Linked DNA regions of Homo sapiens. The protein of the gene in region 2 purifies or fractionates together with the protein of the main gene of each other region. This does not show direct contact. Each region holds a gene or a part of one and is shown on either strand. Other genes may lie near its edges. The genes, in order: API5, DRG2 and MAPK13.

What was found.
Region 1: the proteins of DRG2 (region 2) and API5 fractionate together in Homo sapiens (co-fractionation; one large-scale study listed by BioGRID). This does not show direct contact.
Region 3: the proteins of DRG2 (region 2) and MAPK13 purify together in Homo sapiens (affinity purification with mass spectrometry; one large-scale study listed by BioGRID and IntAct). This does not show direct contact.

The regions. Positions count from the first base shown.
Region 1 is NC_000011.10:43,314,859-43,318,509, reverse strand, and holds part of API5 (apoptosis inhibitor 5), read right to left. Parts: intron 90-3,651; exon of another isoform or gene 28-89; intron 1-27. UniProt on the Homo sapiens protein: Antiapoptotic factor that may have a role in protein assembly. Negatively regulates ACIN1. By binding to ACIN1, it suppresses ACIN1 cleavage from CASP3 and ACIN1-mediated DNA fragmentation. Also known to efficiently suppress E2F1-induced apoptosis.
Region 2 is NC_000017.11:18,090,850-18,094,500, reverse strand, and holds part of DRG2 (developmentally-regulated GTP-binding protein 2), read right to left. Parts: intron 689-3,651; coding exon 528-688; intron 1-527. UniProt on the Homo sapiens protein: Catalyzes the conversion of GTP to GDP through hydrolysis of the gamma-phosphate bond in GTP. When hydroxylated at C-3 of 'Lys-21' by JMJD7, may bind to RNA and play a role in translation.
Region 3 is NC_000006.12:36,133,362-36,137,012, forward strand, and holds part of MAPK13 (mitogen-activated protein kinase 13), read left to right. Parts: intron 1-2,391; coding exon 2,392-2,500; intron 2,501-2,657; coding exon 2,658-2,687; intron 2,688-3,122; coding exon 3,123-3,170; intron 3,171-3,294; coding exon 3,295-3,409; intron 3,410-3,517; coding exon 3,518-3,589; intron 3,590-3,651. UniProt on the Homo sapiens protein: Serine/threonine kinase which acts as an essential component of the MAP kinase signal transduction pathway.

The DNA.
Region 1 (3,651 bases), on a different chromosome or scaffold from region 2:
AGGTTTACTGCTCAAACTGACACTTACCTTCCCAATTCCGTTCTCCCTCCATCTTTGTTTCATTTTTGAGTTGGGGGAGATGGATGAGTCTAATTTTAAGTGGAAAAAGCAAATGTGTTTGTTAATATGCCAATACTTCTTCATTCTAGTGATTATTAACTCTGGCCATGTGACTGTATCATGCTTAAAAAATTTGTAATGGGCCAGGCGTGGTGGCTCACGCCTGTAATCCCAGCACCTTGGGAGGCCAAGGTGGGTGGATCACCTGAGGTCAGGAGTTCAAGACTAGCTTGGCCAACATGGTTAAACCCCGTCTCTACTAAAACACAAAAATTAGCCAGGCGTGGTGGTGTGCGCCTGTAATCCCGGCTACTCGGGAGGCTGAGGCAGGAGAATTGCTTGAGTCCGGGAAGCGGAGGTTGCAGTGAGCTGAGATCGTACTACTGCACTCCAGCCTGGATGACAGAGTGAGACTCTGTCTCCAAAAAACAAAACAAAACAAAACAAACAAACAAACAAAACAATTGTAATGATGGCCAGGTGTGGTGGCTCATGCCTGTAATCTCAACACTTTGGGAGGCCGAGGTGGGCAATCACTTGAGCTCAGGAGTTCCAGACCAGCCTGCCCAACATGGTGAAACTCCCTCTCTCTAAAAATACAAAAATTAACTGGGTGTGGTGGCAGACATTTGTAATCCCAGCTCCTCAGGAGGCTGAGGCAGGAGAATCGCTTGAACCCAGGAGGCAGAGGTTGCACTGAGCTGAGATCGCACCACTGCATTCCAGATTGGGTGACAGAATGAGACTCTATCTTAAACAAGTAAATAAATAAATCATCATGAATACCATAGAATTCACAAAGAATTGCACTGTATTTACTTAAACAAAAATTTACCTGTTTCTAATTAGCACCTTGAAGAAGGTGAAGGGAATACATTCCAGAAATTTAGCAATTCCAGCAATGTTAGGAAGTGCAGTTTAATTTTACCTCATAGCAGTATATGAAAGCCATGACAATTCACTCCATATAGCCAGACAATTTTGGATTAAGACGGACTCTAATGTCACATGTTTAAACCTTTTATTGGAACAATACACTCAAAGCTCATGTTTCCTTAAAAAAAAAAATCACAGGTGCTCTCCCTCAAATACTCATAATGGGAGGAATCAATAAGTTCCCAATCCTCCTTAAGTACTTGCCTCCAAACCAGTCCTTTTATGAAATGACACTGATAAAGATGGTAAATAACAGTAACAAATACAGAAAGACTACACATATATATTGTTTGGACATATGAATAAAACTTAGTAACTGGAAAAACAACTTAAAAATTATAATCTTGACCAAACATATACACAGTATAGTATTTATTATGTATAAGGAGTGTTCTAAGTGCTTTAGACACATGAGCTTACTTCATGCCATCAAGCGGGGAATGACCAATAAATATCCAATGAACTACAGAATTACCAAATTTATTTTACAGTGATTCTTTTTTGTTGATAATGCTATGTTAAGTGAAAAAATAAAGCAGGATGCAAAGTTACAGAACAACTCCCAAATAACAGAAATTTCTGTGAATAAGGTTAACTTCTTCATGAAATGCAGATATATGAGTCTTCAGGAGTCATCACTGAAAAGTGTATTATAAACACATCAAGACCCTGTCTCTCCAAAAAATATAAAATTAACCAGGCATGGTGGTGTGTGCTTGCAGTCCCAGCTACTGGAGAGGCTGAGGGAGGAGAATCACTTGAGCCCAGGCGATAAAGGCTGTGGTAAGCCATGGTCGCGCCCAGGAGTTAGAGGCTGTGGTAAGCTGTGGTCGCGCCACTGCACTCCAGCCTGACAGAGCAAGACCCTGTCTCAAAGAAAGAAAGGTATATGACATACTTTTCACCGCAAACATTAAAAAAAGAAATCATGCTGACTTCTCTACCACTTTACATTCCTGTGGTTTGCCTCAGACTTCTAGGCAGGCTTCATAAAATCAAAGTTTGTTCTGACACCCTTACTTTTTGCAGGGTATCACAAATCTAATTTTCTTTAACTCAAACTTACTCATAAAGCCATTTGAAGAAACTCCTTACACTGTCCAAAATTAAATGAAAAAAAAAAAACCCTGCTTAAAACAAAACTTCCTTTTGCCAAGAAAAAAATATTAAATCTGGAATCAAATAAAAAGGAATCATTAACAATATTTATTGAAGGTCTACCAGGGACTGAGTGATTCCTTGTCTATATCACAATAGGTGTTACTACTATTCTTATCTTTTAGATGAGGAAACTAGGGCTCAGAGAAGTGAAATAAATATTTCCACATATTTTTGAGGGATTACGAACTTGGTTGGTCAGTGGTTTTAGCTTAATCATACAAAAAACCCTACTACAAGAGTGGTTATTTCATGAAATAAAAGTCCAAGAAGCCTACACGCCAACCCTGCAAAGCTAGTATACTCAATGATTGAGAGAACAGGAGGAATCAGGGTTTCAGCATTATACAGATCTAATCAGCCCCACTGCCATGGTCCTTTAACAGGTGTCGGATACATTTTTTAACTTTTAAGATTTTGACTACATAATATAAAATTAAGTATCTATATTTAAAGTAAGTAAATTCATAATAATTTGAAACAGAATTTTAAATAATGGTGGGCCACAGCTTGCTCTATTATGGCTAGTCAGGAGCCCTGGGCAGAGTACAGTGGAAAAGGAGATCAGAAAGGTAAAGGAGCACACAAGAGAAGAGTGAGACCTGAAGGAGTAGCAGAGGCAGAGTGGGGGAAAGGCAGGATGAACGCATAGGCAGAACATGGCAGTTACATGAGAAGATGATAGGACTGGAAGATTTGAGGTATTAAATAATTCTGCACTTAGAATTTGTCATCTGCAGTTTGCTTATTAGAATATACATGCTCATATATGTATGTATGTGTGTGTGTATGATAAAGTTCCCTTTATCCATTAGAGATAATCTGTGTAAATGGTTTTTCTTTTCTTTTGTAAATGGTTTCTCTGTTCCTTCTTCCAATACATTTCTTCAACTATGAAAAAGAAATGCTTACTGAAGGGCAAGGTACAGTGCAAGAAGAGAAGCAATAAATAAATAAATAAATAAATACATAAAAGGATTTAACCCTTGAGACGTTATAATTTAAGTACAGAAATAAATAAAATAAAATACAAGTCTGAAGCATTATTAGTAAGTACATCGTACCAAGGGGTTCAAAAAGAGGATTTGATCTGCTTTGGGGAAATTAGCCGATAAAACCTCAGACGGCTTGTAAGTTTACCCTTATATATTTAGAAGGCACTACTCTGAAAGGAGTATTGACAATAATGGGGAGGGAATAGTCTGTAGTGGCAGCAATCAGAACACCTGTAGTGCTCACCTCTCTGGTAAAGGTTGATAATCAAAGTAAAAGTTAGAAGGAAGTCAAGACTGACAAACTTGAATGCAGTCTCAGAAGTATCCAGACAGGTATTTGCCAGGAAACTTAGTACTGATCATAAATCTCTCATAAGTTGACATGAAAATCAGGCTTTGCTACATCAAGAACATGAACACGGTTTTCTCTCCTTAAAAACAAGTGAAATGGTGTCCTCTCTACTAAGGTGGCTTTTGCCTTTGTTAGTTAAAATTACAAGCA
Region 2 (3,651 bases):
GTTCTCACCCAGGACTCTGCAAGCTCACTCACTTCCTTCAGGCCCCTGCCCAAATACTCACTCACCAGAGAAACCTGCCGGGACCTGTCGTAACTAGCAGACCTTCACCCTGTCACTCACCAGCCCCCACTCCTCACCACTGGATGCACCTTATTACTTATTTACTGTCCTTTCTCTTCAAGAATGGGAGATCTATGTGGGCAGGGACAGAGCTCTGTCTCATTCATGCTATGTCTCTAGTCCCTGGCACAGTGCCCAGCACATGACACCGCTAGAGATACACACTCGAGAAGTATTTGTGTGTGATGACTGAGTCGGAAGACCAAGTAGGGCTCCATCTGCTGGCAAGAGGAAAGAGCGTCCTCCATGTTAGGATGATAAAGGGCTGGGATCTGACCCTGGGGGAGGCCAGGTCTTCTGTGTCCCTGGAGCTAAGCAGAAAGGCAGCGAGGGGAGCCTGGATGGTCACCTGTTTGAAAGATGACTTCTTGCTTTCCTCCCCGAGGCCCACACTGACCATCACTGACCTTACCCACAGAGGGAAATCCAATCAGCGCCACACGGGCATCACCCGACTTCATGACATCAAAGCCCTCTCCTTTGGACGAGGCCGATTTGGACGGTTCCAGGAGCTGGGCCCGATACTTGGCGAGCTTAGCTTTCAGCAGGCCCAGATGATACTCAGTGGCTAAAGGATGGAAAGCAAGACAGAAGATGAGTGGCCAGGGTGTCCAAGCCCAGGGGTCAGGCAGGGCCCACATGTCGCCAAGTGCTGGCTGGGAAGCAACTGCTGTCAAGGAGATCAGGAGAAAAAAAAAAAATCTCTCTGCTTAAAAGGCCCCCTTGGCTTCTCACTTCATTTAAGATAAAATCCAGTCTCTTAGACCGGGCGCAGTGGCTGACGCCTGTAATCCCAGCACTTTGGGAGGCCGAGGCGGGTGGATCACCTGAGGTCAGGAGTTCGAGACCAGCCTGACCAACATGGAGAAACCCTGTCTCTACTAAAAATACAAAATTAGCTGGGCATGGTCGTTCATGCCTGTAATCCCAACTATTTGGGAGGCTGAGGCAGAAGAATCACTTGACCCAGGAGGCAGAGGTTGTGGTGAGCCGAGATCACGTCATTGCACTCCAGCTTGGGCAACAACAGTGAAACTCCATCTCAAAAAAAAAAAAAAAAATCCCGCCTCTTTGTTGAGACTTCACCAAATGGTTCTCACCAATGGTTCTCAACAGAGGGGGCACCGCTTCCTGGGGGGCATTCTGGAAATTCTGGGAGATGTTTTCTGTTCACTTTGATGGTGAAGTACGCATTGGCATCTATTGGGCAGGGGGCAGGGAAACCAGCTGCCCTATTAGGTGAGTCAGTCCTATGTAGCTGAGGAGAATTATCCCAAGTCCATGACTTGTCACATCCCAAAGGCATCCACAGAGGGAAAACCTGGGTTAGGATCGCCAGGCCTAGAACCTAGCTCTGTTTACATATAAACACAGGACATTTTGTACAGTGTTAATATACACTGAAATTCCCAGGAATGCAACTATTATGTATATGAAGGGAAGACTATGTCATGCTTTGTCTGAAACTTTACCTAGAGCTGCTCACCATTCTGGGATCCCACGCTGCCATGGCAGCCCCTCTTGGGGTGTAACTCAGTGGCCAATACAACACACCTGCATCGTGGCTGTCACATCCCCAGTGATTCTACCTAGAGGCATGAGCATTCTACTGCTTCAGGGTAACTTCGTTAGATCCTGGCAGCACTCCAGCATTTATGTATTTAAATAAATACCATTTTCATTATAAATTACTTTCCTTTTTCTTCTTCTCCTTTATATTACTATTAGGGTATTATATTGGTTTTTTTCAAATTCAAGTTATATTACTGATGGGGAATTTCATTTCAGGACTGTAAATGGTGTTACAAACTCTTTGCTCTAAAAGGAGGCCGTCGTTGAGACTGAGAACCAGGACCCTATGTTACCTGGCTCCTGGCTACTTCAACACACTCTGCTACATTCCAGACACAGTTGCTTTCTCCTCTTTTTTTAAAGAGATGGGGGTCTCATTCTGTCACTCAGACTAGAGTTCAGTGGCACGATTATAGCTCACTAGTCTTGAACTCCTGCCTCAGCCTCCTGAATAACTAGGACTACAGGCATATACCACCAGGACTGCCTAATTAAAAAAATTGTTTTTGTAGAGATGAGATGTTGCTATGTTACCCAGGCTGGTCTTGAACTCCTGGCTGTAAGCAATCCTCCTGCCTCAGCCTCTCAAAGTGCTGGGATTACAGGTTGAGCCACTGGGCCTGGCCTTTCTTTTTTTCCTTTTCTAGAATATGCTGACATCATTCCTTCCTTGGGACCTTCACACTGGCGATTCTCTCCATTTCAACGAGATCTTCCTGGAACTGGCTCCTTACCATCATTTGAGGTGCAGCTCAAATGTCACTTCTTCAAAGAGGCCTCCCCTGCCCAGTCTCAGAGGGCAGTGAGAGCTTGTGTCAGAACTCCACCCTGCCATTAGTGGGGCCATTTTACTTTGGAAAAGTTAGTCTTCTTGTGCATCAGTTTCTTAATCTGCAAATAGGGTTATTAACAGTAGTAACTTCTTAGGCAGATTTCTTTTTTTTTCTTTTTGAGATGGAGTCTCACTGTATCGCCCAGGCTGGAGTGCTGTGGTGTGATCTCAGCTCATTGCAACCTCTGCCACCAGGGTTCAAGAGATTCTCCTACCTCAGCCTCCCAAGTAGCTGGGACTACAGGCACACGCCACCATGCCCAGCTAATTTTTTGTATTTTTAATGGAGATGGGGTTTCTCCATGTTGGTCAGTCTGGTCTCGAACTCTCGACGTCAGGTGATCCGCCCGCCTTGGCCTCCCAAAATGCTGGAATTACAGGTGTGAGCCACCAACAAAGTCTCACTGGTGTCACCCCGGTTGGAGTGCAGTGGTGCGATCTCAGCTCACTACAACCTCCACCTCCTGGGTTCAAGAGATTCTCCTGCCTCCGCCTCCCGAGTAGCTGGGACTACAGGCTGGTGCCACCATGCCTGGCTAATTTTTGTATTTTTAGTAGAGACGGGGTTTCACCGTGTCGCCCAGGTTGGTCTCAAACTCCTGACCTCAAGTGATCCACCCACCTCGGCCTCCCAAAGTGCTGGGATTACAGGCGTGAGCCACTGTGCCTGACCATACTTCAGCAGATTTTTGATGGTGGAATAATGGAGAAGTCTTACAGAAAGCACTAAGAACATCGCTTAGCATACAGTAAGCACCCAATAAAAGTTGGCTATAATCTACAGTAAATTCCGCCCTTCCCCAGACTGCTTCCTGCCTCATGAGCAGGTTTACTGTCTTCTCGACTCTGAAAATGATCTTATTTCTTTACTTCCCTGACTCCGATAGGTCAGGAAATGGGACTGGATCCCCAGCCTCCAGCACAGGGCCCAGGCACACAGGAAATATTTTACCAAGTGAATCAGTGAATTGATAGCAGTAAGAAATGGTCAAGAATGGGTTCTGCAGCTGGGCATGGTGGCTCATGCCTGTAATCCCAGCACTTTGGGGAAGCTGAGAAGGGAGGACTGCTTGAGGCTGGGAGTTCAAGACTACCCTGGGCAACATAGTGAGACCGTGCCTCTACAA
Region 3 (3,651 bases), on a different chromosome or scaffold from region 2:
CGGAGGCAGAGGGGGAGAGCCTGGAGGTCAGTGTTAGTGATCTAAAGTAGGGATCTAAAGCAGAGGTGATGGGATGCCAAGAGCAGACTTGAGGCCCCATTTGGGAGGCAGGGCCGACACAATGTTCCATCTGTTGGGGTGCAGTAGCTGAGTGAGGTGGCAGAGGTGGAGGAATGGGCAGGTTCCTGCTTGAAATACACGGTAGAGGAAGAACAGATCTTGGGGGAAAGATAACGAACTCCATTTTGGACACTTTACTTTTAAAGAAACTGTGAACATTCCAATGTTTAATCACAGTTGCAAATAAATATGAACCTCAGGAGACGAAGGTCTGGGCTAGGGATGTGGATTTGTGCTGGAATAATCACCGATGGGTTATAGCTGACACCCGGGAACAGATAATTGTAGAATGTGGTAAGATAGTATTGATTCAGATATCAACATGAAAGAGAAGATCCAAGAGGATGAGCAGATGGAAGAAGCTGAGAGGGCCTGATAGGAGGCAGAGGAGAGTCAGCAAAGAATTGAGAGGGAGTTTCAGACTTGGTGAAAGGTTAGATCAGAAGAAAAGGGAGTCATGGTGTGTTTGTCGGGTGTTCACTGGTGACCTTGAGCTGAGCAGTCTGGCAGTAGGAGGGAAGCAGAAACCAGGTTAACTCAGGACTGGGAGGTAAGGCAGTGGGATCCAGGAGTGTGGACCGCCCTTTCTAGAAGTTTGGTGGTGAGAGAGGGAGAAGGGGTGGTCAGTTGAAGAAGCAAAGTCAAGGGAATGTGGTTCTAGCACAGAGAGGCTTCAGGAAGCATGTTGCCAAGATGAAAGAACCAGTGCCCGAGTGGAGGGGAAAGACACAGGAGGGGACTGGGCATGGAGAGGCCCCCAAGGGAGGTGTGTGGTCCGGCAGGAGAGGGCTGCCAAAATCCAGAGTCTCCTGGAGATGCCTCCAGCATGTCCTTTCAAAAACAACAACAACAACAACAACAAAAAACACAACCTATTACATAATTGTTTAAGGTAACATTCATTTTAAAAAAGTTTTAAATTTATTATATTCTAGAGATAGGGCTGGGTTGCCCAGACTGGAGTGCAGTGGCACAAACACAGTTCACTGCAGCCTCCAACTCCTAGGCTCAAGCCATCCTCCCGCCTCAGCCCCCCAAGTAGGTGGGACTACAGATGCATGCCACCATGTCCAGCTTTTTGTTTTGTTTTAATTTTTATAGATATGGGGTCTCACTATGTTACTCATCCTGATCTCGAATTCCCGGCCTCAAGTGATCCTCCCACCTCAGCCTCTTGAGTAGCTAAGACTAAAGGTGCATGCCACCACACCTGGCTAATTTTTTTTTTTTTTTCTGAAAGGTGGGGTCCAGGCCGGGCATGGTGGCTCACGCCTGTAATCCCAGCACTTTGGGAAGCCGAGGCAGGCAGATCACCTGAGGTCAGGAGTTCGAGACCAGCCTGGCCAACATGGCAAAACCCCGTCTCTACTAAGAATACAAAAATTAGCTGGGCGTTCTGGCGTGCACCTGTAGTTGTAGCTACTCAGGGAAGCTGAGGCAGGAAAATCGCTTGAACCTGGGAGGTGGAGGTTGCAGTGAGCCAAGATCACGCCACTGCACTCTAGCCTGGGCGACAGAGCAAGACTCCATCTCAAAGAAAAAAAGAAAGGAAGAAAGAAAGATGGGTCCCTATGTTGCTCAGGCTGGTCTTAAACTCTTCGCCTCAAGCGATCGTCCAGCCTCCATCTCCCAAAGCACTGGGATTGGAGGTATGCCCCTGGCCTATTTTATAATTTTTATTATTTTTTGTCTTTGTCCTGGTCTTTGCTTTTACTGTAACAGTTACATTTTGCTGGCCTTATCCTGTTGTGCAATCCCCTAAGAGGCTGCAGGAGCCTCCCCATCTCCCTCTTCCACCCTCCTGGAAACTGTTGTATTGTTTCCTTCTTGGAAAGGTAGACATATTGTTTGTTTGTGGAGCCATCTCAGCTGGGCATGACCCTCTGAGGGATCAAATATTTGGACAGAAGCCGAAGGAAATACTGGCAGATGTTTCTAACTCCTAGCTGTGGCTTTCCCTGGGGTGTGGAGGAGGGCAAGGAGAGAGTACCTTTGAAGAGCGGGAACACAGTTCCATGTGGCTTTCCTGAGCGCGCTCCAACTGCAGCGCTTACTCCGAGCTCTGCCAGCTGGGCGGCCCGCCACAGGGAGACTGGGAGCCAGGAGCCCAGAGGCCCGTGTGGTGATCTGGCTGGCTGAGGTGGAGTTGAGTTTTTGCACACTGGAGGGTGTCTCTATGACCCCTGTTCTGCCCTGAGGTCCCTCCTCTGAGCTCTGACCTGGGGCTGGGTGGGACCCGGCACTGTTCCAAGAACCCCTCATGCCTTCCAGCTACCTGGTGATGCCCTTCATGCAGACGGATCTGCAGAAGATCATGGGGATGGAGTTCAGTGAGGAGAAGATCCAGTACCTGGTGTATCAGATGCTCAAAGGCCTTAAGGTGGGTGGGGACTTGGAGGCTGGCAGAGGGGACGCCTTGCTGTCTAGACCTGAGGTTTGGGGAGGCTGGAGGGAGCGCACTGTTACAGGTCGGCCAGCCTGAAGTGCCTGGTGTGGAAGCTGGGCCATGGACTCACCCTTCTCTCTCTCCCACATAGTACATCCACTCTGCTGGGGTCGTGCACAGGGTGAGTGCTTTCTCTGCCATGGTCCTCAGAGGCCCCTGTCCCATCCCTGGGTATGGGGTTCTCTGGCAATCAAGGAGTGGGAAAGTTGGAGGGAGGGGACACTGCCCAGGAGCACAGAATGTGGAGTTTTCACACCCAGCCACGGCCCAGGAAGGCCTGCTCAAAAGAGTCACTGTGTCCCAGGGGACTTCATGGGGAATTGCTGCAGACAAAGTGAGCCCTGAGCTGAGTGTTTCAGGCTTCAAGAATCAGGAACATTTTAGAGCTGGGTGGGCCCTGAGAGAACACCTAGTCCAACCCTCATTTTACACATGAAGAAACTGAGGCCCAGAAGGGGAAGGGGCCTGGCTGAGGTCACACCCCTGGGTGGTGGTGGAGCTAGGACAAGCTCCATCTCTGCCTCAGCCTAGCATGCATTCTCTGTCCTCCCCCCAGGACCTGAAGCCAGGCAACCTGGCTGTGAATGAGGACTGTGAACTGAAGGTGAGTGGGCTGCAGGCTCAGCCCAGAGGCGGGATAGGCCCTCCCCCAGGGAAGCCCCTGGAAGCCGCTCCCAGAGCCTCCTCCCCTCAGCAAGTTCCTTTTCTATTTATCCCCTGTGCCATAGATTCTGGATTTTGGGCTGGCGCGACATGCAGACGCCGAGATGACTGGCTACGTGGTGACCCGCTGGTACCGAGCCCCCGAGGTGATCCTCAGCTGGATGCACTACAACCAGACAGGTCAGTGGTCAATGCCTGAGAGGGCGGTCCTGGGGCCATCTGGTCACTCGGTGCTGACTGACTGCTGGGCCCCAGACAGTCCAGGTGACACTCTCCCTCCCTCTGCAGTGGACATCTGGTCTGTGGGCTGTATCATGGCAGAGATGCTGACAGGGAAAACTCTGTTCAAGGGGAAAGATTGTATCCTTTGCTGGAAAAGCCAAACTCCATCTAGGGATTCCTTCCTTCAACAGACACTTTAT